Regions from separate parts of the Homo sapiens genome. Here all the other regions are linked to region 3. Evidence: fine-mapped expression QTL. A gene starts in region 3. Each other region holds a variant in brackets. All regions are shown on one strand. Distances are from middle to middle.

Region 1 (5,109 bases), 550 kb before region 3:
TATACATAGGAAAAGTATGCCTTGGCTTGGTAGACAGAACTGGTTGTGTATGCTAAAAAGATGTACTATTTTGTTATTCTCAAGCATCCATACTCTTAGGGTCCCAGCTAGGGCTGCTGTTATAAGTGGTTGTTAAAGGGTGTTTGGTTTAAGCTGGGAGGCTTTTTTTTTTTTTTTTTTTTTTTCCCAGTGTAAGAGGAAGCGTTTTCTGTTTACTAAGATTCATGTGGGAGTGTTGTTGGATGTTGGGATGAGACCGTCATGGGTGGTGTGTATAGGGATGGTGTATGGAGAGGGGAGCCAAGAGAAGAGGGATAAATAGGGGAGGTGTCAGCCATTACAGTACTCTGAATTTTTGTTAAGGAGGTGGGAGGTGTCAAGGGCCTTTATGTGGTTTTTGGAGGGCCTGGTCTGACTGTTTGTGGAGGAGATGGCAGATGGGGGAAAGTGTTTGGAGGTATTCCCCTGATTGAGAATTAGAAGGAGGCCTATTTTGTAAGAGGAAAGGGCGTCTATACATTAATTTAAATGGGCTGAGGAAAGAGAGTGCCTTTGGGCTGGCTCTGATGCAGGCTAGAGCTACGGGTAGGAGGAAAGTCCAGGGCCTCTGGAGTTCTAGAGTGAGTTTGGTCAACTGAGTTTTAAGGATTCCATTTGCCCTATTGACTTTTCCTGATGATTGGGGTCGATATGGGATATGAAGGTGTCACTGGACGCCGAGGGACTGGGAGACCTGTTGGGTGATTTGGGAGATAAACCCAGGGCCATTGTCTGATCGAATGGAGTGAGGGAGACTAAACCTAGGGATGATTTTTGTGATAAGGATCTGGGATACTACTGTGGCTTTTTTTGAAGAGGTAGGAAATACCTCCACCCACCCAGAGAAGGTGTTTGTAAGAGTGAGAAGGAATTTTGTTTTTTTGACAGGAGGCATGTGGCTGAAGTATATTTGCCACTCTTCTCCTGGGAGTGCTCCTCTTAGCTGGTGTGTAGGAATAGATGGGGAGTGGAGGGCTCTTTGAAAGGAGGTGACAGAGTATATATGACAGTTTGAAGTTATGTTTTTTAGTGAGGTGAATAGGTGAGGGGAGAAGAAATATGGGCAGAAGAGGAGATACAGGGGACATGCACCAGCACGGAAGGATTGGTGGAGAGATGTCAGGATTTTGTCGGTTTGGAGCTGGGGAAGGACTAGCTTCTGGTCCTTAACTATCCTGTCCCCCTGGAGGAAGGTTCCTTGTTGTAGTAATAAAGCCTTTTCAGTGGGAGAGTATTGAGCTTGGATTGCAGGGGTAATGAGGAGGAGGGAGGCAGGAGTGGAAGAAAGGGAGGCCTTTTTTGCTGCCTCATTGGCCTTTCTGTTCCCTCTTCAGATTCCCTTTCTGTTCCCTCCTGAGATTCTGTTCTCTGCTGCCTTGTTGGCCTTTCTGTTCCCTCTTGAGATTAATCTGTTCCCTCAAAGGCCTTTCTGTCTCTGTTTGATGTCCCCGACAGTGTATAACTCCTGCCTCAGTTGGGAGATGTGCAGCCTGAAGGAGTTGGTAAATAAGGGGCCGTTAGTGATAGGCGTCCCTTTGGCAGTGAGGAATCCCCTCTCTTGCCAGATGATGGTGTGAGAATGAAGAATGTGATATGCATATTTGGAGTCTGTGTAAATGTTGATCCATTTGCCTTTAGAAAGGGTTAGGACTCTGGTGAGAGCTATGAGTTCTGCTTTTTGAGAGGAGGTTCCTGGAGGTAGGGGCTTAGCTTCAATTACTTGGTCAAGGGAAACAACCTCTTACCTAGCAATTTTGGGAGAGCCAGTGGGCCCAGAAGAGGAGGCATCTATAAATAGTTGGTCATTGGGGTCGGTGAGAGGCTCAGAGGAAATGCTTGGAAAGTGTGGCTGCAGGTGATCTAGGATGTCAGTGCAAGAATGAGTAGGAGGGGAAGGGGATACGGGGAGTAATGATGCTGGCTTGAGGGGAGCACTTTTGGCAATACTGAATTCGGGATTTTCGATAAAGAGGGCATGGAATGATCGAATCCGGTAAGGAGGAAGGGAGCCTAATGCTCAGGAGAAGAGGAAATCCTGTAGATTATGAGGACTGTAGACAGTGTTATTTTGACTGAATGTTAGTTTCCTGGTTATTTTTGGACCTAAAGTGGCTGCTGTT[G/A]CTAGCACTCTAAGACAGGTTGGCCATCCTCTGACTGTGTTGTCTAATTGTTTAGAGAGGTAGGCTACAGGGGCAAAGGAAGGAGGGTCTTCTTTCTGCTGCCCTAAGATACTGAGGGCTATTCCTTGGCTTTCGGCAGTATAGAGAATGAAAGGTTGGGAGATACTAGGTAAGGACAGAGCTGGTGTAGTGACAAGAGCAGTTTGGAGTTCACGGAGCTGGGGAGTATGTTATGTGAGGAGTTTGGGGATTAACTGAGAGGGCCTTTTGCCACTTCATAGAGGGGGTGAGCTAGGAGGGCAAAGTTGGGAATCTATATTCTAAAGAAGCCTGCTAGTCCTAGGAAGGAAAGGACTTCGCTGTTGGAGGAGGGCAGGGCAGATTATTTATCTATTAGTGCCACTTGGGTTTGGGTCATAGCCCGGGCCCCAGGAGAAAGTTGAATTCCTAAGTAGGTCACCATGGAGGTGGAGAGTAGTGTGGATTTTTGAAAGGATGTTTCTGCCTAGGAGTAGAGTTGGACATGAGGGCAGGACTAAGAAAGAGTGAGTGAAGGAAAAGGTGTGCAGGGAACAGAAGAGTGGAGGGGTGGCTCGGGGTTTGGAGACTTGCCCATCAATTCCTACAACAGAGACCTGGGAGGACTTGGTGGGTCCTGAAAAATTAGGTAAAGCAGAGTAGGTTGTCCCAGTATTGAAAAAAAAAAACATACTGGCCTACCTGCCACCATCAGGGTTACCCTTGGCTCGGATGAAGAGATGGTAGTTGCCAGGGCGTCCGTTCCAGGGCACCATCAGTCTTCAGTGGCAAGGCCGATGAGATCTGAGTAGGAGGTTTTGGCCAGTTCAGGAAGGGATGGGGGCAGTCCTTGTGGGGGCCACTCACAGTCTGACTTCCAGTGGCGTCCTCCGCAGAGGGGCACAGCCTGGTGGGCTTATCTGGGTTAGGGCATTGTCTGGACTAGTGGCCTTCACTGCCGCACTTGAAACAGGCACCAGGTGGAGGTGGATTGCTAGGAGGCTTCCATGTGGAGCTGCGCCCTGTTGCCTGCAGGGCCCCTGATGGCAGAGGCAAGCGTTTGAAACTCTGCCTGTTTTTGCCTTTCTTTCCTCATCACGATTGTTAAAAGACTTTGAAGGCTAAATTAAGAAGGTCTCGTTGTGGGGTTTGAGGGCTGTCGTCAAGCTTCTGAAGCTTGTGCCGAATATTGGGTGTGGATTGGGAGATAAAATGGGTATTAAGAACAATAGTTCCTTCCTGGGAGGCAGGGTCAATGTGGGTATATTTTTGGAAAGCCTCTGTAAGGCAGAAAAGGAATTGAGCAAGATTTTCATCTGGTTTTGGGAAATTTCTTTAAGATTTTCAAAATTTACAGCCTTATGGGCAGCTTTGTTAATGCCTGCAGTGACGCAAGTAATTATATGGTTATGGGATGCTTGGCTGGAGTTTGTGGGTTGGTACTCCCAGGAAGGCTTTTCCCAGGTAACAGCAGCGGCTTCTACAGGCTTAGTAGGATCTTGCCAATGAAGATCATCAGCTTGTGCCTGTGCTGTGAGCCACACTCTTTTCTTCTCTTCTGGAAGGAGGGTATAAAAGAGGATAATGTAGAGATCATGCCAAGTGAGTTCATTAGATTGGGTAAGATATTTAAATTCTTTGATATAAGTATCGGGATCAGAGGAGAAGGATCTGAGACATTTCTCAATTTGGGAGAGATCGGAGAGGGAAAAAGGGACATGGACATGGATGATCCCCTCGACTCCTGCTACTTCCTGGAGAGGAAGCAAGGGAGCTGGTTGCTGAGCATCTTGGGCCAGAGAGGAGGTGAGGGGTGGAGAGAGAGAGGACTCAGAGTCAGAAGCAGGGTGGTTGGAGAGAGGAGGGGAGAGAGGTAGAGCTGGAGTGGGGACATACGGTGGAGGATCATGATGCTCTGGTGGAGGATCATGATGCTTTCAGGGAAGGGGAAAATTGGCAGGGTCGAAGGAAGAGCAGTCTTCAGCTGGGGCTGTGGGGAGGGGGGCAGGAGGCAAGTCAGGTTTGGAGTGGGTGAAGAGGATTTGGAAAGTAGAACAGGACTGACAGAGGGAAGAGTGATTACAGAGAGTGAAGAAAGCCTGAACATAAGGAATCTCAGACCATTTCCCATTTCGATGGCAAAAGTTGTTTGTCTTTAAGTACATTGAAAAAGATAAACCTCTTAGAATGGATTTCTGAATGGAGGCTGAGAGCATGGAGATTGCGGAGGAGACACCCAGGGGGGTGGTCTTGGAAGGGGTAGATTGAGAGGCTCCTATAGTGAATGGAGGAGGGGAGGGTAGGGGAAGAAGAGACTGTTGATGACAAGGACGGTGGGAGAGGGCGTCCCCTTTCCCATGGAACTTCTCCAGAATAAAGGAGGTAACCACCGAGTCAGGCATCCCTGAAATGGAGGAACTGGAGGCTCAGAGATGGGAGGAAGCCCTTGGCCCAGCGCTGGGTCTTTTGGAAGTGGAGAGATGGATGGTCAAGGGTTCTGGGGAATGGCAACAGTCTCTTTTCACTCACCCTGGTGGAGGCTTTGATGGTGGATGAGGTTGCCAGCAATGGGAGAGTCTAGGAGATTCTCTGGGTCTTTGGCAGGTTTGGGAAAGAGGAGATTGGCCGGGAGAGGGGTGATAGGGGAGGGAGGGGAAGAGAGAGAGAGAGAGAGAGAGAGAGAGAGAGTGAGTCCCAGCCAGAATCTATTGCCTTCCCGGGTTTCGGCACCAGAATATAAGGTCAGCCGAGAGAAAGGATGAGAGAGGGACCCAAGGTCAGGCGAGGAAGTTTATTAACCTGACAGCTGCTCCATCACAGAGGAGGCAGCTCTGAGCATACAAAATGAGGGGTTTACATGAGGGAAGAAAGACCCTGGGATTGTTTGCTGGTTAATTTTGCCACATATTACCTTGTGACATTTATTACAGAA
Region 2 (5,109 bases), 56 kb before region 3:
AACTGCAAAAATTCTTTATACTTTCCTTTTAGTTATTCAACCCTATACATAAGCATTTAGATCCTGTGAGAATGAAATTCTTTTACTACTTCAAAACCAATGGATGATTTATTGAACATTTATCAGCAGATAGAACAGCTAAGAAGTCATTATCTAAATTTTTCCCTTGTCTCACATTTCCAATCAGAGTGCTTGCTAACAGCCAGTGCACTCGGAACTCAACTTTACCAGGAACTCAAGGCCTCAGGTCATATTGCGAAGCAAAAATACTAGAATGTTAGCCTCTGAATAAATTTTGATATTATCTAGTCCATCCTCCTTATCTTAACCAATGAGAAAACTTAGCATCAGACAGATTATACCAAGAGTTATTGAAGAAATCAACAAAGTGAAGCGACAATCCACAGAGTGGGAGAATATATTTGCAAACTACCCAGCTGACAAGGAATTAATAACCAGAATATAAAAGGAGCTCAAACGACTCTGTGGAAAAAAATTATTACCCAGTTATGGTGGCTCATGCCTGTAATCCCAGCTCTTTCGAAGGCTGAGGCAGGCAGATCATTTGAAGCCAGGAGTTGGAGACCAGCCTGGCCAACATAGCGAAACCACATCTCTACTGAAAACACAAAAAATTAGCCAGGCATGGCAGCACATACACACCTGTAATCCCAGTTACTCAAGGTGCTGAGGCATAAGAATTGCTTGAACCTGAGAGGCAGAGGTTGCAGTGAGCCGAGATCATGCCGCTGCACTCCAGCCTGGGCAACAGAGTGAGACTCTGTCTCAAAAAAAAAAAAGGAAAGAAAAGAAAAGAAAATATTGATCTGATTAAAAACTGACAAAAGATTTGAATAGACATTTCTTAAAAGAAGGCATACAAATGACAAACAGGCACATGAAAAGGTGCTCAACATCACTGATCATCAGAGAAATGCAAATGAAACTACAATGAGATACCTTCTCACCTCAATTAAAATGGCTTATATACAAAAGATAAGCAGTAATAAATACAGGAGATGATGTGAAAAAAAGGGAGCCCTTGTACACTGTTGATGGGAATGTTAAGTAATAAAACCACTGTGAAAAACAGTTTGGGAGTTCCTCAAAAAAACTAAAAATTCAGCTATCATATGTTCAGCAATCCCATTGCTGGGTATATATGCAAAATAAAGGAAATCAGTATATTGAAGAAATATCTGCCCTCCTATGTTTATTTCAGCACTATTCACAGTAGCCAAGATTTGGAAGCAACCTAAGTGTCCATCAACAGATGAATGGATAAAGAAAATGTGGCACTTATACACAATGGAGTACTATTCAGCCATAAAAAAGAATGAGATGCCATCTTTTGCAGCAACATGGATGGGACTGGAGGTACTTGTGTTACATGAAATAACCCAGGCACAGAAAGACAAACATCATATGTTCTCACTTATTTGTGGGATCTAAAAATCAAAACAATTGAACTCATGGAGATAGAGAGTAGAAGGATGATTACCAGAGGCTGGGATAGACAGCGGGGACTCTGGCGGTGGGGGGGCGGGGGGGTGGAAGTGAAGATGGTTAATCAACACAAAAATAACAATTAGAAGAAATGAATAAGACTTTGTATTTGATAGAAAAACAGGGTGACTATAGTCAAAATAATTTAATTGTACACTTTAACTAAAAGTGTATAATTGGATTCTTTCTAACACAAAGGATAAATGCTTGAGGGGATGGACACCCCTTTTTCCATGATGTGATTATTTCACATTGCATGCCTGTATCAAAATATCCTATGTACTCCATAAACTTATACACTGACCTATAAAAATTAAAAGTAGTTTTTTTAAAAAAATAAATGCAAGAAATTGTTTCAATAAACGAATTGTAGTGGCTCGCATCTTTAAAGTAAAACAGCATAGAGCAGTACTCTGTAACTGCATTTAATTGGAAATAGTGATAATCTGAATCAAAATTTGGATTTTCAACAGCCTAACCATAAATCTTCCAGAGACTACACAAGTAAATGTAAATAATTGCTCTCTCTCAAGCTTCCATATATCTTCTGGAATCTAAGTTAGATTGATCATGATCAACCTTTCCGTCAGAAAGGTTTTTTGTCTGTTTTGTTGTTACAGATGTTCAGCTCAACATAATCTCTGTGAAAAGATATTAAATTACACCTATTTATTTTGATCTAATTTTGGTAAGTGTATACAACAGAATGCTCAACTCTCTGCTAGGTACTGTGGGGGAGGGAAGAAAACCTATAAAATAGTCACCCTCATTTACACTGGTCTAGCATTTTATCATCTATAATGTGCTGTAACACCTATTATCTCATCGGACCCTCTGATGATCTCTCTTATCCCGAGCTTTTAAGTTTAACAAAACAGGTTTTGCCTTTATTTTACAGATATAAAAAGGGAGGCTATGAGAAGAAATGAGACTAGAGTCCAATAGCATTAAATGTTTGTTTCCCAGGGATATTTGAGTTTCTTAGAGGTCTCAAGATATCTTAAAAACAAAACAAAACAAAACAAAATACTTTCCAGATCCTAAAGAATTAATCTCTAATGGTGTGATTTCCAGCTAACAGAAAAGACAGGTTCTGAGACAGAAGCTATCTTCAGATTGCCATACTTGGGCCCAAGACCTAGCTTCACACCCCAACTATCATTGACCTATGTGTCCTCACCTCAGACTGAGTGCTGCTCTCCTGCTGCTTTCCATCTGTTTAGGAGCCCCTTGTAATATACATTCTGGTGCAACTTGTTCTCTAAACTTTGTTTGCTCCCTTTTCCTACCTAATCAATATTGCTCTGTCCTGTGCCTGTGACCTAGTCCCTTAGGGCACTTTGTTTTTTGATAATGTATCTCTCTAAGGTGTTAATAAATGCTAACAAAC[A/G]AATGCATCACTATCCCAGGGAAAGTAGTTTTCATTTTAACTGGAGCTTTTCAGAGAACTGTGCTTTATACTGTTAATGTCACTCTCTGGACAAAATCTTCAAAGGCTCTTCATTGCTAATCAAGTTAATTCCAAATGCTTCAATCCTGGGGAATAAGGCCCCCAGAATTTCATCCCATTCTAAACTTTCTAGGCCAGTTCTCCCAGAAATCTACCCTGTGTGTTCAACGAATTAAACCATTCCCTTTGCCCCATATGTTTCCATGTTTCCACTTCAAATGGTATCCTGTCTTCTCCATAAATACTTCCCTAATCTCTGACCACTGTCCCACTATCAGCCTTTAAACTTTTATCAACTAACCTTTGAAGGACTTTAGATTAGCTGTTGAAGGATTGAGGGAGGAATTGAAACAAGCAGCAAGATGAGGAGTGCCCACTAAACTAGAAAGGTAGAAGGGTTTCAGAGATAAGCTTTGCCAATATCATACTCTTGCCAGGGACTTTGCCTGGAAATGGATGTCTAGTAGTCACTACTTGGAAAACTTTGTCTAGATTCAGCTGACTCTGAAAAAGTAGGCCCATGGGTATCAGACTGAGGAATATAAAAAGTATGAAGAATATCCTTAGAGTGAGGAAAACTGAGACCTCTAGAGAGGAAGTGACATGCCTAGAATCATATAGCTAGCAAAGTGGCAGAATTGTTGCATAGTTCACTGCTCTTGAAGCTCCCTATGGGAAGAACTTTACCCTGTGAAGATATGCCTTGTCTGTGTACTTAGAGCCTTTGCTCACGTTTACCGCACCCCCCAACCTTTTGGTTTTCACCCATGCCCTAGAGTTTCCCTTGTAACTACCTCTTAATCATTCTACTGCCAGCAATTCTTTTAAAGCAGTATTCCCTTTCATGCAATAACATCTTCTCAAATCACCTCCCTGATAGGAGGTAGTGCCACTAAAAACCCTTTTATTTATTGCTGTAGTGCACTTAAACATCTAATGAGTCAGATTTTTTATTTTTGTCCCTACTTTCCAGGGCCTGGTGAAGTATCAAGTTTTAGGAATATTATATAGTAATGGAATTTGACTAATCAATAGCTGACCTTGACTCAGAATTCCACATATCTTACCTCTGTCTTCCAGTACACATTCTTCCTTTGCTTTTCAGATTGTGGATTGGTAACTCTCATAATCACACCATCAGTTGGGGAGGTGGGACTATGCATACAATGTTTGATGAACAGCCAATATAAGAGAATTAAAAATAATGAGATTTTGGATTCAGAAATTATTGAGCTTTATGCTTTAATTTTACATAATATGTATTGATTATCTGCCTTGAAAGATGAGGAAAATAGCACTCTTATACTTCCTATACTCTCTTCCACCACTTCCTGATTTTTATGAGATTTATATTACTCATGTGCATTATGTTTTTATTGACACAAATTTAATATTTATCTTTTACGTATCCATTAACATAGATTTATGATTATTGCTTTATGCATTTGTCTCTCATGTTATATAAGAAACAAAAAGAGGAGTTACAAAACAAAATATAATAATACTATCTTTTATATTTACTTGCATAGTTACCTTTACCAGAGATCTTTAATTTTTTGTATGACTTTGAGTTACCATATAGCTTCCTTTCATTTCAGCCTAAAGGACTCTCCTTAGCATTTCTTGTAGGAGATATCCAGAGACAAATTCCCTTGCTTTCATTTATCTGGGATTGTCTTAATTTCTGCTTCATTTTTGAAGGATAGCTTTTCCAGGTGTGGTATTTGGTATTTTTGGTGACATATGACCCAGCAATTCTACCCCTGGATATATACCTAAATGAACTGAAAACAGGTATGTGACTTGCACAAAGCTAAGGAAACAAATTGAGAACAACAACAACAACAAAAACCTCACTATTTGAAAATGAATAAACTAGAAATAGCAAGGAATTGAGCAGAATTGCTTAAAATCAAATTAATAAAAGAGAAAAATTCTGAGATAATCACAGCAAATTCAGAAGATAAAGACAAATTAGATTCAGGAGAAAATAATAAAGACGGATAACAAAGATGATCTAGTAAGGAGAATGCTAATAGAGAATAACCTCTATTCTACAAATAGAATAAAGGAATTATTAGAAGGTATAACAGCAGGAAAATTCCTTGAACTAATGACAGAATTAAATATGCAAATATAAAGACTATATTTTA
Region 3 (5,109 bases):
TGTCTTCTTTTGAGCCCTCCAAGCTGTTCCAACCTCTGCCTGTTACATAGTTTGAAAGTCGCTTCCATATTTTCCAGTATGTTTATAGCAGCACCCCACTACCTTGGTACCAATTTATTGTATTAGTCTGTTTTCATACTGCTATAAAGAACTGCTCAAGACTGGGTAATTTATTTAAAAAATAGAGGTTTAATTGACTCACAGTTCATCATGGCTGGGGAGCCCCAGGAAACTTACAATCAAGGCAAAGGGGAAGCAAGGTACCTTCTTCACATGGCGTCTGGAAGAAGTGCCCAACAAAGGAAGGAAGAGCGCCTTATAAAACCATCAGATCTTGTTAGAACTCAGGCACTATCATGAGAACAGCATGGTGGAAACCACCCCCATGATTCACTTACCTCCACCTGGTCCCTCCCTTGACACATGGGGATTATGGGGATTATGGGGATTCAATTCAAGATGAGATTTGGGTGGGGACACAAAGCCTAACCATATCAGGTATGGATGGGATATGGGAATACCTAGAACGCTGAAAAAGAAAGAGGGTGGGACTGAACCTTGAAGTTCCAATAGGCAGAATTGGGAAGAGGAGGGATGATCCAGTAAAGGAGACAGAAAGATGTATAAGAGAAACAATGATGTAGGAGAAAAACAAACATTATTTCGTTCCAGAGGCCAAGTAAAGAAAATGTTTAAAGAAAGAGTAAGTCATGAACTTACATCAAATGCCAGCAAGTGTTCAAGCAAGCTGTCAATAACATGTTTTTGCTGACGGGAGAGATCCAGTAGAGAGAAAAAAATAGATGATGTTAGTGGGGGGGCGGGTTGCAGAACAAAGCCTTTGAGTAGGCAAGAAGGGATGGATGAGACCCAGCGCTCAAAAGGTTGGCAGTACCAGGCACAGCAGCTCAGGCCTGTAATCCCAGCACTTTGAGAGGCTGAGGTGGGCGGATCACAAGGTCAGGAGTTCGAGACCGGCCTGACCAACATGGTGAAACCCTGTCTCTACTAAAAATACAAAAATTAGCCGGGCGTGGTGGCGCACGCTTGTAATCCCAGCTACTCGGGAGGCTGAGTCAGAAGAATCGCTTGAACCCGGGAGGCAGAGGTTGCAGTGAGCCAAGATCGCGCCACTGCACTCCAGCCTGGGCAACAGAATGAGACTCTGTCTCAAAAAAAAAAAAAAAAAAAAGAAAAAGAAAAAAAGTTGGCCCTAGTTAATACTGTCAGTTCAGCCAAATATGAGTTTATGGGTGTGTGCGTGCACACACAGACACACACACTCTCACACATTTTCACGATTTATAGCCCCATGCACCCACTACTTTCGAAGCTTTGACTTTTAGAGAACCCTGTTCGTTAAGCTCACTTTCTCCTCGAGATTTTCAGCAGAGTAAGTGAGAGGACATTATCAGTTATCCTTGTTTGTAATTCAGTGCAATCTCTGTGGCCAGCTTTGCTTCATTAGCTCTTGAGACCAGATGATGAAATAAATGGAGGGCATAGGTCAACAGCCCTAGGTGTAGAAGGGTAAAGGGGGTGGTGTGCCTTTTATGAACGTTAGAAACCTCTCCAAGGTCCTGAGTTGGTTTAGCCGCTGTTACAGTTGCTCTTTTAAGTCTTTGAAGTGTCAAATGTGGAATAACTTTTAAACTTTCAGCTCTGAAGTGTTTTGATGAGAAGCATCTTGATTATCCCCCGTATAAGATTATACTTTATCTCTGTTATATCGCCAGCTCCCAGTACAATGTGTGGCTTAGAGTAGCGAAGTAGTAAAGCTCGCTTTGAAGAAGGTACTAAAAACTATGATTATTGTCACTACAGACCCAACATTCTCAGAGGGGGCTGGAGGATGGGCTAGCTTCGGAATCATGCCTTTGTTGCCACAAGTGGAGTTCATTAAGTGGCATATGTTTGCCTGTGTGTGTGCATGTGTGAAGAGAAACATTGTGTGTTATCAATAGTGTGAAGGCAACCAGCAGGAGCATCCTGAGAGGGACAAGTAAGGTGGGGGCTAGAGAGGACAGGTATATTTATTTTTTTAAATGGGGGTTATCCTGCCTTTACCTTCTAGGAGGATAATGTATGATGTACTAAAATCCCTGCCCTAGTATTTGTCACTAAGTATCGAAATGGGCGTGGTTTGGCATATAAGACACCTGCTCTTCGTGAGCCCTGCAAAGAGATACTCTTGGAGTCCTACCCTTACCCTGATTCCTCAAGTGCTCTGGAGGGTCCCCCAGTTCCAGCATCCTTTTTGAGAATCCTGCCGCCCGCCAGCAATGCTGCTCCGTGGACTTGAGAGGGCCTGCTGAGCATGTGTGAAGAGCGCTGCGCATGCTCCGTGGAGTGGGCAGGTTTACCGAGGCGCTAGCAGGGGCTTTTACTACTGTTCAGTCGCCTCCCCAGCCCAGCACGCCCCCCTCCCCTCTATCCCACCACCCACCACGCGGTCCCCCGCATCCACCCCGCCCCTCTATCCCGCCCCCTTCACCCCAAGCTGGGGAATCTCCATTGACGTTTGGGTGACGCCGCTGTGCCGCCGCCGTGGGGGGGTCCAGGCGCCGCACAGGTAACGCCGCCGCTGCCGCCATATTGACAGAGCAGGGAGCGGGGAGGGGACCCGAGGAAGTGGGGTGTTGGGGGAGTCACCACCGAGCGGCTGTCGTTGTGGTGGCAGTGGTGAGCGCGAGCCGAGCGGCAGCTCTTGGAGAGGCAGCACAGAGTTGTCTTCTCTATGGGAATCACCGGGCGGCGGCGGCGGCGACCCCCAGCTCCCAGCCTCTGAGAGACCCGGCGGCGAGGGCAGCGCTCGCTGAAGGCGGGGCTGGGGGTCGCGGCGGCGGCGGCGGCGGCGGCGGCGGCGGCGGGCCAGTTCAATAGACAGGATGCGCGGCCGCGCCAGCGGTAGGCGGCAGCTCCTGTTTGAGTGCTCCTGAAGGGGAGATGCTACCATTCGCTCCTCAGGACGAGCCCTGGGACCGAGAAATGGAAGTGTTCAGCGGCGGCGGCGCGAGCAGCGGCGAGGTTAGTGTGGTGGCCAAGACGGGCTGGAGCCAACCCCCGCCTCCTTCCCCTCAAGACCTTGGCTGGGGACGGAGAGAGGAGAGGCGTAGGGCCGGGAAGCGGGCTCCCGGGCAAGCCCCCTTGATGCTGCCTCCACTGCCCTTTCGCTGGGGAGCGGGCGGGGATGAGACGGCGGGCTCGGGCTTGCGGAGTGAGTGCAGCCTGGGCCCGGGCTCGGCCTTGGGCGGAGCGCCTGCCTGGCGGGCCACGCCAGAGTTGTTGTGACTAAGTTTCTTCACTTTCCGACCCGAAGGGGAACTGGGGGACTGGCGGGGTGCTGTGCCTGACTCCGCGCGTCCCTTTTTCTCCGCCGCGCCTAGTTTGCTGGCTGGGAACATTTTGGGGGACAGCTGCGGACTCCAGCTCGCTGTTGAACCCCGGACGCTTTACGAACCCAGTGCAACAAACACACCAAGGTGACTAAGTAACTCTGGGGACATTTGCACATAGGCACGAGTGTTCCCTGGTAACAGCTTTCTCGTTTCTCTGTGGCTTGTTATGGTTCCTTGTAATGACCCATGTCGAGATACACTGGCGACCTATCTCCAGTCGCCAGGTTTCAGGTGATGTTCTACTGCTTCCTCTCAGGTCCCCTTGATTCTACTGCACTCTTGCTCCACCCCTTCTCCTTTCCACAACCGCTGTCCCTGCCCCGTTGGTCTGTAAAAGAAGACGCAAAGTAAACCCCAGCCCTTATAAATAAGTCGAATCTTTGGTAAGACTTAGCGAGGTTCAACCAAAATACTTTGGTTCACCTCTCTTCCCACTCTTCTTACTCTGAAACTGTTCTGGTTGGGCTTTGGTCAGCTGTGCAGTGAGAACTTAGATGTACACAGGTGCTTTGTTTTTATTGTTGTTATAAAAGCGGGCAGCATTTAAACACAAAAACGTGTCTTTTGTGATAGAAAGTTGGATCCTTTTCTGATAACTTAATCGACTGCGTACTACTCCAGTAGAGGCCACCATACACCTCCTAAAAATAGTTGGTGAAATTGATTCACAGTAGGATATTTTGAGGTAAGACTCTCAATCCTCGACATCTAAAGGGTGCAACTTTGTCTTCAAGTACTTGCTCCATTTAAAAAAAATACACATTTGGCTGTTGTATGATTACCTTGTTTTTTTTTCTTTAAATTTTTTTGTTATTTATCAACTAAACTGGGGTTAAGATTACATGCTAGAATAACATGTGGTAAGGAATATAGTGGAAATAAATTCAGAAGTACCCTAAATCTGAACCCTCTATACTTACAGGAAATATTTTACTAGTAAACCAAGCAATTCCAATATACGTTTTAATATTTTACATCTCGTAAGAACAAGATAAATGAATAGGCGTTCCTTTCTTGTTGAAATGTGGGAATGCTAACTGTTTGCACAATTGTCTAGCAAGTCTATTGAAGGGGAGAGGAACTTTGTTATATTCATGTATGTAACTTACTGAACTTATAGGCATTTAGTTTATAAAAACAGTTAAATGCTTTGATATAAGGATGGGATGGGAGGTGGGAATCCTTTTGCATGCCTACTATTTTATTATTTCTGTTAACTTTGAATGTAGTATGTTTTAAATTGTAATTACCACATATGGTTTTTTTATTGTTTGCAGTATGTTTTAGGTATTGTAGAGATTTAACAATGGGTCTCTCTACCTCAGCAATTTGGAAAAATACTCGAGTGGAAATTGTTAATCCCTATGAAGTAAAACGAAAGGTGAAGGTAATGTGGTGAAGATAGTATTTCTGCCTTCTTTCTCTAAAACAGTTATGATTGGTTAGATTTAACCCTGCAAGTTACTTAATAAAAAATATTATAGGTGAAAACTAAATGCTACATTTGAACAGACCCACTTAGTACTTAGAAGAGTTTGTTTGTTTTTAATTATATTCTTTTGATAAGAAGTAAACAAGTTTACTTTTGATAATTTATATTTTAATTACAAATTTGTTGATGTTGGCTTTAAAAATGCTAATTTTGAGTACAAGCTCTACAACCCTCAATTGTGATAATTTTAGGACTAAGAGTGTTTTTGTTGTAGAATAT
Region 4 (5,109 bases), 310 kb after region 3:
ATCGATGACAGTTTATTATTTACTAAGGACTAGTTTTTGTTTTAGTCCCTGTTAAAAACTACTCTGTGGAGAAGATAATTTTCACTAATACGGACAGCCAAGAAACAACCAAATAAATTATAGACGTATTTGATTATGTAAAAATTTAGTATTTGTGCACAGCAAAATACACTGCAAAATAATTAATAGACATGAAAGCTAGGGAAAATACAACAAGGAAGACAGATGAAGGAGTAATACCTATAATATGCAAAGATACTTTAATAAATGCAAGAAACATACAAATAACCCATGTGAAAAATGGACAAAGAATACAAAGAAATAATTCTCAAAAGATCAAACGTATGGCACGACAAACATTCAAAAGATATTTAAACAAACTAGCATTTAGGAGAATGCAAATTAAAGTACCAATGAGATATCATTATGCATCCATTAGAATGGCAAAAGTTAGGAGGAGCTGTAACAACTATTGCTGACCAAGATGCAAAGATGTATTATTTCTTTATTTTAAAATAAAACAATAAGAAAACCTCACTTCCTCCTGCTCCCAGCTGCCATACACTTTCTCTTCTGCTGCCAGATGCTACCACTGTGTGCATGTGTGTGTGTGTATGTGTCTGTGTGTGTTTGAATGTTTGATATGGTAAAGTGAACCTTAGAAAGACGTATGGAATGAAACATAGTAAGTTGTTGATAAGTGTTACCTAGAAAGGAGAAAAAAAGCGATGGGTGAAAGTGGGAATGAGAAGTAGAGAGATAAGCAAAAATAAAAGATGGAAGGAAAACAAATCACAATGTATGGTATTGACACAAAATTCTGTGTGTGTTTTCACAAGCAAGTTGGAAATAAGAACAATAACAATAGATGTATGTCTAACGACTTATATGGATGACCATGATATTGTCAAGTGAGAAAATAAGTTGTACTTTACTGCATGTGCATGATTGTATTTTGGTCAAAACAAATTATGTAATTCTCTCTCCCTCTCTCTCTCCCTCCTTACATTTGCTTGTACAAGGAAATGGTGTAAGAGAGAAAAATGGACCCCAGGCTGCTAACATTGTTTACCTCTAGAAGATGAGAAAATAGGGGGATTTGGCATCAGAAAGTGGACATGAGGATCTAAATGATTAGCTTTTCTTTACGTATTTTATATTGTTTCTGTTGTTGTATTTGTATTTTTGTTAATAAAGATTATATATACACATACAGAATGGAAAACAAAACACCCTAAACATAACACCCTACTTTTCTACCTTAGCATCTGGAATATAAAGAATTCTTCACTTACGTTTGAGAATATTGCTAAGATTTATAAACATAATATCAAATGTAAATAATCTTAATCCAGGAGTGTAAACAGTGCTGACCCTGAAACACAGCACTGCTTATGTGGTTCTTACGTGCTTATGTGCTACTGTGAGAATCACTAGGACTCCAGTGGAGGAGAAAAGGAGAAAAGCCATCATTCTTCAAGCCCATATTAAAAAAAAAAAAAAGGAAGGAGAAAACTCCATAAGATTCAATAACAAAGTTTGTTCATAAGTTCCCCATACACAATTGAGCAGGATACATAGGTATTCTCTTCCAGACATCCAATTAGAATATAAAGTGCATTTTTGTGACTACCCTCACTTAAAAAAATACTTGTTTTAATGACATATCTAGAGGAAAAATGCTTGGAAAAAGGGATATCCGAATGTCTCCTACTGTGATATGTAGCTCTTTAGAGGGACCAAATTCTCAACCAACTAAATATAACATAGGTGCTGTTTTTGAATCTGTGGACATATATTAAAATATATATTTTCATATATATAGCTGCTGTTTTTGAATCTGTGGACATGTATGAAAATATATATATATTTATATATATTTATATATATATTTATATATATTTATATATATTTATATATATTTATATATATATTTATATATATTTATATATATTTATATATATTTATATATATTTATATATATATTTATATATATTTATATATATTTATATATTTATATATATATTTATATATTTATATATATTTATATATTTATATATATATATTTATATATTTATATATATTTATATATTTATATATATATTTATATATTTATATATATTTATATATATTTATATATATATTTATATATATTTATATATATATTTATATACAAATATATATATTTTATATATATATTTATATACAAATATATATTTTTATATATATATTTATATACAAATATATATATTTATATTTATATACAAATATATATATTTTTATATATATATTTATATACAAATATATATATTTATATTTATATACAAATATATATATTTTTATATATATATTTATATACAAATATATATATTTATATTTATATACAAATATATATATTTATATTTATATACAAATATATATATTTATATTTATATATATATATATATTTATATATATTTGTATATATATATATATATATGAAAAAACAGGCTAGATTCACTGCCTGCATAGAACCTGAATTCTGATGTTGAATATAATTAACAAACAAATGAATAAAATATAATTTTATATAAATATAAATTCAGTGAAGCCAAATAATGTATGATGCAGTGTTCGGAGGGTGACTGCATAGTGGTGGATGAGAGGGTAACATAAAGTAAGGTAGTCAGGGAAGGCTTCTCTAAAGAGAACACTTAAGCTGAAAAACTAAATAATGAAAAGGAATAGACATGCAAAGATCTGTGGGAGGAATATTCCAATCAGAGGAAACAGCACATGAGAAGGCTTTGCAAGAAAACAATCTTGGTGTTTATGAGAAACAAAAAGAATGCCAGTTTGGCTAGATGACAAGAGAAAAGAGAAGAAGTGCTACATGATTATGGTGAAAAATGGGTAGGGGCTAAAGATTGTAGACACTGGAAGCTAGGGTAAGAAATTTTATTCTGCCAGACATGGTGGCTTACACCTACAATCCCAGCACTTTGGGAAGCCAAGGCTGGAAGATTGCTTGAGCCCAGGAGTTCAAGACCAGCCTGGGCAACATAATGAGTTAATGGATAGCTAGATGCTAATGATGGTGATGACTGGAGCAACGAAGGTGGTAGTAATGGAGATAAGGA[A/C]AGTGGATTCAGTCAGGACATATTTTGGAGGTAGAGTAAACAAGTCTTGCTGATGGATTACCTGTGTAGGGTGAGAAAAAGAAGTGAGAAGGAGATTATGTCCAGGCTTAAAAAAATCAACTGGCTGGATGGTGGTGCCATCTGATAAGATGAAGACAGCTAAGGGAGGAATAGAATTTAGTGTGGGGTTAAAAATATTATTTAAACATTTTAAGTATGAGATGCCCAGTAGATACTATAGTGGAGATTTCAAGTGGAGAGATTTTGGAGCTCAATTAGAAGGTCATAACTGGAGATATTAATTTTGGAATCATCAATACATAGATAATATTTAAAGCCATTTAACGCTATATACTCACAAAGGGAGGACTGTAAATAAAGAGTGTCCAGGACAAAGACAGGATCATTCCAATTTTTAATAATGAGGCAGAGAAGGATACAATAAAGGTGGTTAAAATCTACCAGTATGTAGAAATAAAAACAGGAGAGCACAGTCATAGAAGTGAAGTAATGGAAGTATTTCCAGACAGAAAGGTTAGTTTAAATGCTGTTGAATTATGAAATAAGATGAGGAGGGAGGAAAAGCCTATAGATATGGCCACAAGAAGGTATTTGGTAACCTTTAAAGGAAAAGTTTCAGTGGAGTAGTAGAGACAGAAAAGCCTAACTGAATGGTGGCAAAGCATATGGAAGTTTATTAAAGAGACTTGGCATGAATTGTACAAGCCTAGAACATACCCTGAAAGATAATTTTTTAATTAAAATTAATCCTTGTATTCAATTTTTTTCTTATATTTTATTTACTTTTCCTAAAAACTGCCTGTGGAAAAGAGTCTAGCTATTTGAGAGTCTTTCTTCTTACTTATCTTAAAAATTATTCCCCAGTGTACTTTTATTTCTTATAAGTATTGTCACACTAGTGGTTAGCCATCCATTAACTCAATCTGGTGGAGAAAGAAGATATCACCTAGAGCAAGGGGGTCATTAATCAACTTTGAGTCTCAAAGCAGAGTTTTGGGGTCTGCTGGGAGAAAGCTAGACTTGAAACCCAGGCTTTCTGAGAGTGATAAAAGATGTTTTTATCTTCCAAAAAATATTAATATATGAGAAGTAAATTGATGTACATATGTAAAGTTTTATTATAAACCAAAGATAGAAAATATTTGGAATATAAGATAAAATAGATCTCTCTGAGCCTAAAAGAGGAAATATAAATTTCTTGAGTTAGAAGAACAAGAAGGTGACAAGGGGGAGAAATGAGGAGAAGAAAGGGAGGAGGAAATTAATAAAAATGAGAAGTTTAGGGTCAAGAACTAGCTGTATCTACAGAAGCCGTGAGTTTAACAGGTCAGAGGGCAGCAGTCCTACGATGCTTAGAATAAACAATGAATACCATGCAAGCATAGGAAACAAAGATTGATGCCCAGAAATCATGTAAATGAGTTACACCCAACCAAAAATCATAGAGACAGAAAGGGAGGAAACATGTAGAATAGGGACTTGATATGGTTTGGCTGTGTCCCCACCCAAATCTCATCTTGAATTGTAACCTCCACAATTCACACATGTCGTGGGAGGAGCCCAGTGGAAAGTGATTGAATTATGGGGGCAGGTCTTTCCTACACAGTTCTTGTGATAGTGAATGAGTCTCAAAAGATCTGATGGTTTTAAAAACGGGAGTTTCTCTGCACAAGCTCTCTTTGCCTGCTGCCATCCAAGTAAGATGTGACTTGCTCCTCCTTGCCTTTTGCCATGATTGAGAGACCTCCCCAGAAATGTGGAACTGTGAGTCTAATTAAACCTCTTTCTTCTGTAAATTTCTCAGTTTCAGGTATATCTTTATCAGCAGTGTGAGAACTAATCCAGAACTCCTCTGTCTAATGTAATATGTCTATTTATGCTTTCCCTTACAATCAGACTATTGGGGAAGGGATTGAAGGGAAAGACTCCTGGATGAGAGAAGTAGTAGCTTTAAGTTGACAGAGTATTT
Region 5 (5,109 bases), 49 kb before region 3:
CATACCTCTGCAAGTCCGACACATTTCAGGGAGCCAAAAAAAGGGCAATAAATTGGGTGGGGGTAGGGTGGGCAGAGAGGGGAGAAACACAGTAAAACAGCCAGTGGAAGAGGAACTGGGGCATGGAAAAAGCAGCAAACTTGGGAAAATAAAAAGAATGGGTTCAGCAAAAAGATAGACCCCAAAAGTTGATACTAACATGCAGGAGACTTTTAAATGACTATTATTTTACACTTAGAGCAGGGACCAGATGAAAATAGAGAGGAGTGAGTCTACCATCTCTCTCCCTGGCTCTCTGAAAATGGCAGAATGTGCATATAAGCTTTTTAATTTCTTTTAACTGTGATCCACACCTGTACAACCACACCCAGACAGTAGGTTAAAATCAAGCAGAAACAAAGAGCTGCTGCCCTCATATTAAAACTAATTAGACTTGTACATCTGTGATCCTCTTGACAACCTTCAGGCCTCTAAATCTCTGGACCCTGCTTGCCTCCAGAACCAGGCTATGCCTTAACTTAGGCCTGTACCTTTGCCCAGCAATCTTTTACTTCATCTAGCAGGGCATATTAAAGAATTAGAATGCTGTAGACTGGAAACTGAAAATTTTTCTGCCCATATTATATTTTTCTATAATTTAAGCTGAATCAAATCAAGGGGGTTTAGAGAAATAATTGTTGACTGGATAAATACATGAGTATGTTCATTTTTAATTTTTTTAGCTATTGCTTTTTGCAAGATCAAATTTTACAGTCACATTAATGAGGTGAGGGATAGTTCTCTCCCAATCTAACACGCTTGGATTCCTTCCTACCTTTCATTGGTTGCCTTCCAATTTCCTCTACCTCCCTCTAATCTTAGTGGGCCTTAGATAATTTCCCCCATTACACCTAAGGAAATAGTTGTACAAAGCTGAGGCCTTAAAATCCTGACAGGAAAAATAAAACTTGAGCTAAGAAAATTGATTTACTGAAGTAGTTAATTCAATATACAGGGAATGTTACTACAACTTACATCCTTTTAACAGCTATAATTAGAGCTTGAAAAGTTTTGCCTGGCTGTTTTAGTGTGTAATTTGTGATTCATTCAATCAACCACCATTTATTGACTGCCTACCATGTGCCAGGCTCTGTGCTAGGTAGGCACTGTGCCAGTTACTACAAGGAAAACTTCATGTGGGTATTATTATTATTAAATTTATTTCAACAGCTTTTGGGGAACAGGGGGCTTTTGGTTATATGGATAAGTTCTTCAGTGATGACTTCTGAGATTTTGGTGCACCTATCACCTGAGCAGTGTATACTGTACCCAATATGTAGTCTTTTATCCCTTATCCCCCTCCCATCCTTCCCCTGAGTCCCCAGATTCCATTATATATTCTTATGCCTTTGCATCCTCATAGTTTGGCTCCCACTCGTAATTGAGAACATATGATATTTGGTTTTCCATTCCTGAGTTACTTCACTTAGAATAATGGTCTCCAAGTCTATGCAAGTTGCTGCAAATGCCATTATTTCATTGCATTCTATGGCTGAGTAGTATTCCATGTTGTATATATACCACATTTTCTTTATCCACTCATTGGTTGATGGGCATTTAAGTTGTGTGGTGTGTGGGTATTATTTTAAATGGAGCTACTTGAGAAAAGATTTAATTGTTTTCCTGTGATCCTCTTTACACAATCTATTGCAACATCTGGTCACCATTTCATACCTTTTGCCTTTGGCACAGTATCTTGCTACCACCTGGGTCCTACTCTGTGAAATGTCTTTCTGTTCCTGTTTCTATGGACAACCGGGGATGCTTATTGTGGTTTTTATGAATGACAATTATGTTCTACATGGGATGTAGTCCCAAGACACCTCTAGTAGGGACTGGCTTAGTATGGGAAGTTCTGCCAAGAGTTAATGCCTTTTTATCCTGCAATTCTTGTCCCCTTTGGCCAATTACATGTGGTGGGGAGTAGACTAACAACAGCAGACCTCTTTTGTGGTATACTAATCCAAGTCCTGAGTTATATTCTGGGACAAATAAGCCTGAACTTGGAGTAAGTAATAAGGTAAATGAACAAGAAGCAGTAGGAGCATGAAGGGACAAAGAGAGAACTATTTTGCCTAACAGCCATGTCTCCAAGACAGAATATGAAATGAGATATCCCAATCTTCAAATCAGAAAGGCAAACCCTATATTCTATTCTGATAGAGCATTTGCCCAAAGATTTAGTTAGATCCAGAAAAGTATCCCAGAGTCCTGTACATTGCTTTAACTTCAGTTTTGATCCCTGTATAGTCTTACTCTCTTCTGTAAGGTTCTTGTTTTTCCATACCAGGTGAGGTGATGAAAATTGGAACTCCTGGTCTAAGAATTTCAGACATATGAAATATTCCTACTGTGGAGGCTCATCTGGGTGTATCAGAACTTAGGGTACTATTCTTAGGCTCAGTTTTTACCCTCAGTTTTCCCCATGTCTTATCTATAGACGCCACTTTTGTCCACGCCAGTTAGGATGTCAAGTTAACAAATTCTGCTTGCATGTTAGGACCCTGCTTCGGTATGTACTCTTGTGCCAAGCCTGAATTAAACTCACTGCTTATTTTAACTCTGTCCATATCCTGTTCCCTCTGTTTTACTGTGACACCTGGGTCTTTGACCTTAGTTTTTCCCTTTGGATCCATTATACACTTGAGCTTCTCATTCTGTAGGACTTGATTTCTTCTTCTCCATTCTCCTCATGTTGCCTGTAAGACTTACTCTCCAGAGTATTCTTTCTGCCTTACTGACACACAGAGTTGTCTATTGGAATTGGGGAAGGCAGGTCCAGGGTCTGGACAG[T/C]AGGCACAAGCCAGCAGCTTCTTGATTTTTGAGGCTAAGTCCTTCCCTCAGCTAGAAAGCTGACATGTTAGACAGGGTTAAATCAGAAATGGCCAGGAATTTGGGAGTTCTGACTTATGATTGGTGAGGACAGAGATTCCTGGAGTCCTGCCACTCTTAGAAGGGTATAAATGGACAGCACTGAATTAAAACCTTCACAGGTGTAGAGAGAAGAGAGAGTGGCCACCATAGGCTCAGGAGCAAATAGCAGGTATCAGGTAAGACTTCTGATTGCTGTGGTATATAGACTGGCCTGAGTCTTTCATCAAGAGAATGTGGGTGAGTGAGTGTGTGTGTGTGTGTGTATTCTGGGCACTGAAAGCTCATCAAGAAAGTCTCACTGAAATCACAGCTTTCTTTCCTGGAGCTGTATATTGCTTCCTTTTCCTTTCCCCCATGCATCACACCTGCCACATGAGTATGTTGTGCCTGAAGACTTGGTGTTTATAGAAAGGTGGAGTCTTTTCCTGAGGAAGATGGTTTCTCTAGGGGAAATTAGAACTGATAAACAATAATTACATTCAGCAGGCCCCATTACGGAGAAAGCTGACAAAAGAAGGGAGGGTGAAAACTTCTGTTCCCAAGCCAGGTAGGACTTGGAGGGAGCAAGCAGAGAATTGAGAACTTTGTGCCAAAGCTGAAGAAGTCTTGAGGGTGATACCAGAAAGGTTGGCATGAAACCTACTTGGATAATAATCCCTTATACTTCTACAGTGCTCCATGCTTTGCAAAGTGCTTTTACATTCATTATTTCACTGAGTTCTTGCAGCGTATTTGTGAGGTAGTTAGATGTGGTGTTTGAGGTAAAGGAATTTATGCAACGTCACAAAATAAGTCGGTGGCAGAGGTGTAACTAAAAAGCAGGGCTCCTGATTTCTGGTCCTGTGCCCTCCCACTGCAGCAGGCTGACTGCCTCTGGATGAAGATGAAGGGCCAGCTTCTCTGTGGTGAGCAGTTTTTCAAGAATATTCTTAAAACAGGCATGAAAGCAGCAGAATGAAAAACTAATTTGTCACTGGTTATTCCTGGGGACTTGGGCTACTTTGTCTCAGTACACTTGATTAGCTTTCCAGAATTCAACTTTGCTTTCTTTAGCAACAAATCTATCCTTTCTTTCCTAACAGATAGCTGCTAGTTATTGGTTTCTCAAATAAGAAAATGCCCATTTCTGCTGTTCGAACTGATAACCTTGCTAAACTCACACAGTTTTCTTCTTGCAGAGTTTTGGCAGTGAACAGAAGTCTCACACCCTTGTGAGGGCCACTAGGCTGGTTTCTGATCACAGCCAGTCATTTGAAGCATGGCTGCAATTTCTAGGGGACACCAGGTTTGGCACTCAGAAACTCAGAGACTCAGATTGAGCCAATAATCTCTCTTCAAATAATTATCTTTAAGCTCTGCTCTGGTTGTTAAAGTGAGCTGTAAAATGGGCACTTTCTCTCTCCAAGTCAATAGACAGAGCTGTTCCTAGAAAATATATATATATATATATATATCCAAACACACACATATGTATATATGCAAACACATAAACATCCCATTCTTCTTCTGCAGCCAGGCCTATCCTCTGTTCCAAAGCAAAACAGCCAGAGGTGGCCTTGTCTTTTCTCTATTTCATACATGTACCATCAAGCTGACCTCTAAGTGATTCTTCTACTCTCAGACTTTCCACGTTATTCCCTATAAACCAAATGTTGAGAGAGAGAGAACACAGTGTGATTTCTCTCAGGTCTTCAACCTACTAGAGATTACCCAGCCTTTAGGCAACTTACTGAGAACAGACATACCTGAACAGAGTGTCTACCCACTCTTCCCTTTTACAGTTTTAATGTGGCCCTTCAATTTACCCACAACTGCAGGAATAGCTCAGATTCTCTCCAGAATCAAGCAACTGCCTGACTGTAGAAAGCAATTTGGCAGTTGCCCTAACTTGGACTTTCTCTAGCTCCTGAGATAGGTCACTATTGTGTAAAACTAAATGAGAGCATATTATCATAGTACCTGAAAGATTAAGTGAAATTTCCTAAAAAGTGTATCACGTATAGTCTGGTAGTGACTTACACTCCAGGGAAACTGATTATATTACTTTATCCATCATGTGCTTCATAGTTTAGTTAATGAAAACACTGCTATTAATTGATGATTTAAATACATGCCTTATCAAAATGAGAATGAACCCAATCTTCATTTCACAGACCTTAAAATTTTGAATGTTGCTACTGGGTCCTATATAACCCA

Which allele goes with the higher level. Positions count from the first base shown, and alleles are read on the strand shown. Sizes are in standard deviations (SD) of each study's normalised expression. Not every link is listed here.
With allele G in place of A in region 1, the expression in visceral fat of the gene that starts at base 2,647 in region 3 is higher (moderate effect, 0.64 SD a copy in GTEx).
For the expression in sigmoid colon of the gene that starts at base 2,647 in region 3, G is the low allele of the variant in region 2 and A is the other (small effect, 0.33 SD a copy in GTEx).

What was found. PIP is the estimated chance that this variant, and not a neighbour inherited with it, causes the effect. A credible set is the group of variants that fine-mapping cannot tell apart.
Region 1: its variant is the best candidate, but not a certain one, in a credible set for the expression of RPS6KA6 in visceral fat (GTEx, PIP 0.57).
Region 2: its variant is the best candidate, but not a certain one, in a credible set for the expression of RPS6KA6 in sigmoid colon (GTEx, PIP 0.52).
Region 4: its variant is the best candidate, but not a certain one, in a credible set for the expression of RPS6KA6 in fibroblasts (GTEx, PIP 0.82).
Region 5: its variant is the best candidate, but not a certain one, in a credible set for the expression of RPS6KA6 in blood mononuclear cells (TOPMed, PIP 0.51).

Annotation. Positions count from the first base shown.
Region 1 is chrX:84,738,753-84,743,861 of GRCh38, reverse strand. It overlaps the pseudogene TEX16P. Among named protein-coding and RNA genes, the nearest start is that of HDX, 240 kb to the right of the region's middle. The variant G/A (reference allele first, on the strand shown) is at 2,160.
Region 2 is chrX:84,241,969-84,247,077 of GRCh38, reverse strand. No RefSeq gene overlaps it. Among named protein-coding and RNA genes, the nearest start is that of MIR548I4, 19 kb to the right of the region's middle. The variant A/G (reference allele first, on the strand shown) is at 2,897.
Region 3 is chrX:84,185,737-84,190,845 of GRCh38, reverse strand. It overlaps RPS6KA6 (ribosomal protein S6 kinase A6), which reads left to right and starts at 2,647. Exons shown (of 22, transcript NM_014496.5): 1 at 2,647-3,027. The coding sequence starts at 2,947.
Region 4 is chrX:83,875,248-83,880,356 of GRCh38, reverse strand. All of the region lies in intron 4 of CYLC1 (cylicin 1), which reads right to left. Among named protein-coding and RNA genes, the nearest start is that of CYLC1, 17 kb to the right of the region's middle. The variant A/C (reference allele first, on the strand shown) is at 3,120.
Region 5 is chrX:84,234,593-84,239,701 of GRCh38, reverse strand. No RefSeq gene overlaps it. Among named protein-coding and RNA genes, the nearest start is that of MIR548I4, 11 kb to the right of the region's middle. The variant T/C (reference allele first, on the strand shown) is at 2,833.